2 separate regions of the Homo sapiens genome follow, and region 2 is linked to region 1. The links come from fine-mapping of genetic effects on gene expression. A gene starts in region 1. The other region holds a variant in brackets. All regions are shown on one strand. Distances are between the middles of the regions.

Region 1 (2,897 bases):
TTTCCAACCTATTTAATAGACATTAAAGCTAAACACACATTCCTTATCTTACTCCATCTCCCCTGGCACATCTGCCTACTCACAAAGTATGAGGGAAAGGACTCCTGCCTTCCTCAAATCCCATGTTCTCCATAGCGGCAGCCCTTGGCAGCTCTGCTTCTAGTGCTGGGGGAGACTCCAGGCTGAGCCAGTCACTTTCTGGGCCCCGTGCCCAGACCTTCGTGTCTGCAGACACACCACCACCCAGGCTGTCCTCTCCCAGGACCGGGCTGGTCATGGCCGTGGGGCTCCATGGAAAGCAGATCCCAGCGCCCGTGCAGGAAGTGGATGGGCCATGCTGTGGGCAGGCGTGGGTGAAGGTGCAGCCTCTCCCCAGTCTACCTCACTGACTCCTCTTTCACCCAGAGCTGGGTCAGCCTTGCTGGGTGAGGAGCTATCAGCAGGACAGGTGGCATCAGCGCCCACTGCCTGCTCCTCAGTGCAGAGCATGCTGCGGGTGCATCCTCCCCTGTAGCCCCAGAAGGGCCGTGGCTCTGAAGCAGCCCACTGATGGGGATGGCAGAAGGAAGGGGCGGGCACGTAGCCTGGTGAGGGCACAGCTGGTGCCTGGGGTGTTACCAGAGCAGAGGGACACCCACAGGCGGAGAGGCAGAGGAGAAACCAGTTCCAGGCTGAGGGGAGGTCTCCAGAACATGACCTCCACCCTTCCCTCCATCTGCCCGGCCTGTAGGGTTGCTCCGACCTGGGAAGCCCTCCATTCTGCCTCCCTCTCCAGCCTTGGAAAGAGGCACCCACTGGGAGCCGGCGCTGGCCCTGGCCCTGGCGTGTGGGTCCTGGGCTCCTCCTCGCACCATCCTTCCCTGCCTCTGGTCTGGGATTTTGGGGTCTGTCTGGGCCCTGAATGCTGGGGCTTCCTGGCTCTGGGCTGCTGGTTCCCAAGGTCCAGGCTGCGGCGGGGGCCACGAGGATGCAGCTGCCTGAATGCATTTTTTATGAAATTCCGTTAAAGTTTCTTCTCTTCATCTTTCCTGCCCATTGGTTTCTTTTGCTGCAGCTGAGCGTTCTCTTCCTCCTCCGTTTTCGGTGACCACTTTGGCGGTTCTTTTAAAAGGAGGCGAGAACGCGGGCAGCGCCGGCAGCGCTCCTCCCGGTCGCGCGGCAGGAGCGGCGGCAGTTCTTCCCCCACTTCTAGGTGCCCTCCTGTCACCCAGGGCAGACGCCGGGCGGTGGGGTCCGCGCCACTTCAGGGGCATTCGCAACAACCGACGGCCGCGAGTTGCCAATGGGGCCCCTTTCTCGGGGCTGCCCCTATGACCTGAAACTCGCTTCGCCCATGTCCTCCTTGGAGCGGGAGAGGGTTGTGGCTGGCCCCGGCCCTGCAGCCCCTGCCTTCTCTACCTGGGTTGGGGGAGCGGGGAAAGTGGTGCGACCAGGGCTGATGCTGTTCCTCCTGCCACCAGGTCCCCACCACGCGCTCTGCAGGCTCTTCCCACGCCGCGCAGCCCAGCGGTGTCTCCCGGCCCAGTGCACCTGAGCTCCGGGGAGGGCTGGGTGCGGGGCCACGCGCAAGATCGAGGTGCCGGCGGGTCCGGCGTGGGCCCGGACACGGCCCAGGCGCACCGGGTGAAGGGGTGACGAGCCAAGCGAGTTCCGCTTGCGGCTGGGTGGCAGCGTCGCAGGGTCCCACGCAGGCGGCGCGGCTTCCGGGGCGGCCTGGAGGCCAGGGCAGTGCCCCGGGGGCCCGGCAGGTGGCGCGGGCGAGCCGACCCTTCCCCGGCGCCGCGCGAGGAGATGAGCTCACGGCGGGCCCCGCAGCGCCGGACGCTGGTTGCGCGCTCCCAGGCGCCGAGCGGCCCCGGGCACGCGCGCGCGCCACCGGCCCGGCAGGTGGGTCCCGGCTCCCACGCCGCCTCTCCCGCCCGCGGGACCCTGGGCCGTGGGCTCCGCAGCCCGCCCTGTGCCTCCGGGAGGGGCGTTCCGGGCGCGGGGGGAACGGCCGAGGGCTGGAGACCCTAAAGGCGCCTCCTACGGCCAGAGGGGAGCCTCCGGCGGGAGCCACCTCTCCGGGGCGCATCATCCTGCCCCCCAGTAAGAGGAAGGCTCCAGAATGGAGCTCAGGAATTAGGAGTCTCGAGTGCGTAGGGCCGGGTTACTGCCACTCGGGAGCCGATCCGACCAGCCTGTCCCAGGGAGAAGCTGGCACGGGTCTGGGGAGTTCAGGCTGCTCCCGGCAGGGGCGGCGGACAGGGCGCCTGCGTCCCCACCCACGCAGGCCGGCCCCATCCGGGGGATGCAGCGGCGGGTGTTGAGACCGAAGGACTCGGCGAAAGCCAGAAAGAGAGGGTTGGGGAGAGGGGCTCGGAGACCTGCTGGGGACAGAGTCGCACCGCTTGGAGTTCCCAGCCTGGCCCTCACCCGGCATCTTCCTGGGCCAGCAACGTCAGGCCGGTTTATTTAAGCAACTGTAACGTCCGCCCGCACACACCCTGCCCCAGTCTACTCCTGCCTCCTGCTGGGACTGGAGGGTGGGCGCTTTCCTGCTTCAGCTTCTCGCTCTTGTGTAATCCCACAAGCGAGGGATTTCTAAACTGAGCAGCAGGTGCCTGGCTGATGCCCAGTCCCCACCAGAAGCCAAGCCTGGTGGGCCTTCAGCCAACCACCGCACGCCACGGACCGCCCAGGAGTCCCTGTCCCGAGCGCGCCGTCAGCCCCGTCCAGGGCCTGCAGGACGGAACCCGCCCTGCGCTCCACACCTGAGGCCGCTCCCTTCGCCTCTTCTCCTCAGGTGCTGTCCTTATTCCCAGCCCAGTCAAGAGCTACCGGGGCTGGCTAGTCATGGGGGAGCCCAGTAGAGAGGAGTATAAAATCCAGTCCTTTGATGCAGAGACCCAGCAGCT
Region 2 (2,897 bases), 82 kb before region 1:
GGGAACAGAGAGATGAGGCAGTAGAGTCAAAAGAAGTCTGCTTTCACCCCACTCCCAGAGATGAGAGAAATGACAGCATTTTTATTTGTTGATTAGAAAAATCCAGTAGAGATTTTAATTAAAATTGATGATGCAGAAGAAAGGAAAATAACTGAGTTAATGTCCTTGAGCAGGCAAGAAGAGATGGGATTCAGCACCTTCGTAGAATTTTGTTTTGCTAGGAACAGGGACAAAAGTACGAGTACAGGTCCTGGCCAGGCGCGGTGGCTCACGCCTGTAATCCCAGCACTTTGGGAGGCCAAGGCAGGTGGATCACCTGAGGTCAGGAGTTCGAGACCAACCTGGCCTACATGGTGAAACCCCGTCTCTACTAAAAATACAAAAATTAGCCAGGCATGTTGGCATGTGCCTGTAATCCCAACTACTTGGGAGACTCCCGAAGTGCTGAGATTACAAGCATGAACTGTGCCCGGCCATAGATCTGTTTTTATTCACTATGGCTGGGTTCTCAGTGCGCCCTTCCTATCTGAAAATTCATATTCATCAGCTATGAGAAGTTAAGTTTTTCCTTTTTAAAAAACATTTCGTAGTGTCTTTTCTTCTATTTTCACTGTTCTCTTTCTGGAAGTTTGAATAATAGCTGTCACATCTTTTGGAAGACTGCAGTGGGCTCTTCCAGCAATTCTTGAATCCAGCAGTCCCCAACCTTTTTGCTACCAGGGACTGGTTTCATGGAAGACAATTTTTCCATGGAAGTGGGGGGTCGAGATGGTTCAGGATGACTGTTCAACCTCAGATCATCAGGCATTAGATTCTTACAAGGAGCGGGCAACCTAGATCCCTCGCGTGAGCAGTTTACAGTAGGGTTTGTGTTCCTACGAGAAGCACTGGCAATGTGGTGAAACCCCATCTCTACTAAAAATAGAAAAATTAGCCGGTTGTGGTGGCAGGCACCTGTAATCCCAGCTACTCAGGAGGCTGAGGCAGGAGAATCGCTTGAACATGGGAAGTGGAGGTTGTTGCAGTGAGCAGAGATCGCACCATTGCACTGCAGCCTGGGAGACAAGAGTGAAACTCCATCTCCCCCCC[C/ACCC]CCCCCAAAAAAAAAGACCATGAATAAACTTTGCTTGTACAACTCTGAATACCAGAAAACAATGTCTCTTCCAAGTTCTGAGGGAAAATGCTGTTCAGCCCAGGATTCTGTTGAAATCTATACCCAGCCGAAATAGCCTTCAAGTATAAACATAGAATCAAGACATTTCCAGACATGCAAGGACTCAAAACATTTGCCCCTCACGCACCCTTTCGTTTTTGTTTTTTTTTTGAGACAGAGTCTCGCTCTGTCACCCAGGCTGGAGTACAGTGGTGTGATCTCGGCTCACTGCAACCTCCGCCTCCCGGGTCCAAGCAATTCTCCTGCCTCAGCCTCCCAAGTAGCTGGGATTACAGGCATGCACCACCATGCTTGGCTAATTTTTTGTATTTTTAGTAGAGACGGAGTTTCTCCATGTTGGCCAGGCTGGTCTTGAACTCCTGACCTCAGATGATCCGCCTGCCTCGGCCTCCCAAAGTGCTGGGATTACAGGCATGAGCCACTGTACCTGGCCAGAATTTTTTTTGTTGTTGCCCAGGCTGGAGTGCAGTGGCGCAGTCTCGGCTCACTGCAACCTCTGCCTCCCAGGTTCAAGCGATTCTCCTGCCTCAGCCTCCTGAGTAGCTGGGATTACAGGCATGTGCCACCACACCTGGCGAATTTTTGTGTTTTTAGTAGAGGCGGGGTTTCACCGTGTTGTCAGGCTGGTCTTGAACCCCTGACCTCATGATCTGCCTGCCTTGGCCTCCCAAAGTGCTGGAATTACAGGTGTGAGCCACCGCGCCCGGTAAAAATGGTTTTTTTTTTAAGGGCATAGAAACTCGAGGAAATACAGAAGCCCAACCAGTAAAGGAAGTACAGTTGACCCTTGAGCAACAGAGGTTTGAGCTGCATGGTTCCGCTTATACACGGATTTTTTTCAGTCTACATGTGTGTCAAAAAGACAGTATTCACAGGATGCACAGCCCACTTACGCAGAGGGCCAACTGTGGGACTTGAGTATGCACAGATTTGGGTATATGCAGGGGTCCTGGAACCAGTCCCCCATGAATACAAGGTACAACTGTGTCTTTTTTTTTTTTTTTTGAGACGGAGTCTTGCTCTGTCGCCCAGGCTGAAGTGCAGTGGCGCGATCTCGGCTCACTGCAAGCTCCGCCTCCCGGGTTCACGCCATTCTCCTGCCTCAGCCTCCCGAGTAGCTGGGACTACAGGTGCCCGCCAGCACGCCCAGCTAATTTTTTGTATTTTTAGTAGAGACAGGGTTTCACTATGTTAGCCAGGATGGTCTCGATCTCCTGACCTTCTGATCCACCCACCTCGGCCTCCCAAAGTGCTGGGATTACAGGCGTGAGCCACTGTGCCTGGCCAACTATGTCTTTTAAAAAAAAAAAAAAAACAAGTTAACTTTTTCTCCCAGAGAACGGTCTTGTGAGCTTGATGATGAAAATTCAACTAGAGAAAACTGGAAATTTTGGTGCTAGTCAGTTCAGAGTTGATAGCCTTAATCATTATTGATTTATTATACATAGACATCCGTGACATTAAAACACTTTTACTGCATAGAGGGGATCATAAAGGCTGAGTGATACCAGGCTGTAGCTGCAAACAGTAGGGATATCTTAGTTGTCACATAATATGTCTGATCGCTTTTCTCCTTTGGGAAACTACTTGTCATTGTGAGCAGGAGAATGAACCGTTTATGCCTGGTCACCCTTCCATTTCCAGGGAGCGTGGATGTTCTGTTGGTACTGGGGCCTGACCCAGAATCATGGGATTGTACACACATTTCTCCTTTAAGCACAACATGA

Alleles and levels. Alleles are on the strand shown, and positions count from the first base shown. SD is a standard deviation of normalised expression in the study named.
As copies of C replace ACCC in region 2, the expression in whole blood of the gene that starts at base 1,800 in region 1 goes down (moderate effect, 0.73 SD a copy in TwinsUK).

What was found.
Region 2: its variant is fine-mapped to the expression of MIF4GD in whole blood (TwinsUK, PIP 0.95).

Annotation. Positions count from the first base shown.
Region 1 is chr17:75,270,134-75,273,030 of GRCh38, reverse strand. MIF4GD (MIF4G domain containing) reads left to right here and starts at 1,800. Exons shown (of 6, transcript NM_001370592.1): 1 at 1,800-1,887; 2 at 2,786-2,897. The coding sequence starts at 2,836. It overlaps MIF4GD-DT (MIF4GD divergent transcript), which reads right to left and starts at 1,732. Exons shown (of 1, transcript NR_036520.1): 1 at 1-1,732. SLC25A19 (solute carrier family 25 member 19) reads left to right here. Exons shown (of 8, transcript NM_001126121.2): 8 at 1-39. RefSeq lists silencers at 374-423, 1,394-2,053, 2,164-2,233 and an enhancer at 98-885.
Region 2 is chr17:75,352,463-75,355,359 of GRCh38, reverse strand. The region is part of intron 2 of GRB2 (growth factor receptor bound protein 2); the gene reads left to right. Among named protein-coding and RNA genes, the nearest start is that of GRB2, 52 kb to the left of the region's middle. The variant C/ACCC (reference allele first, on the strand shown) is at 1,090.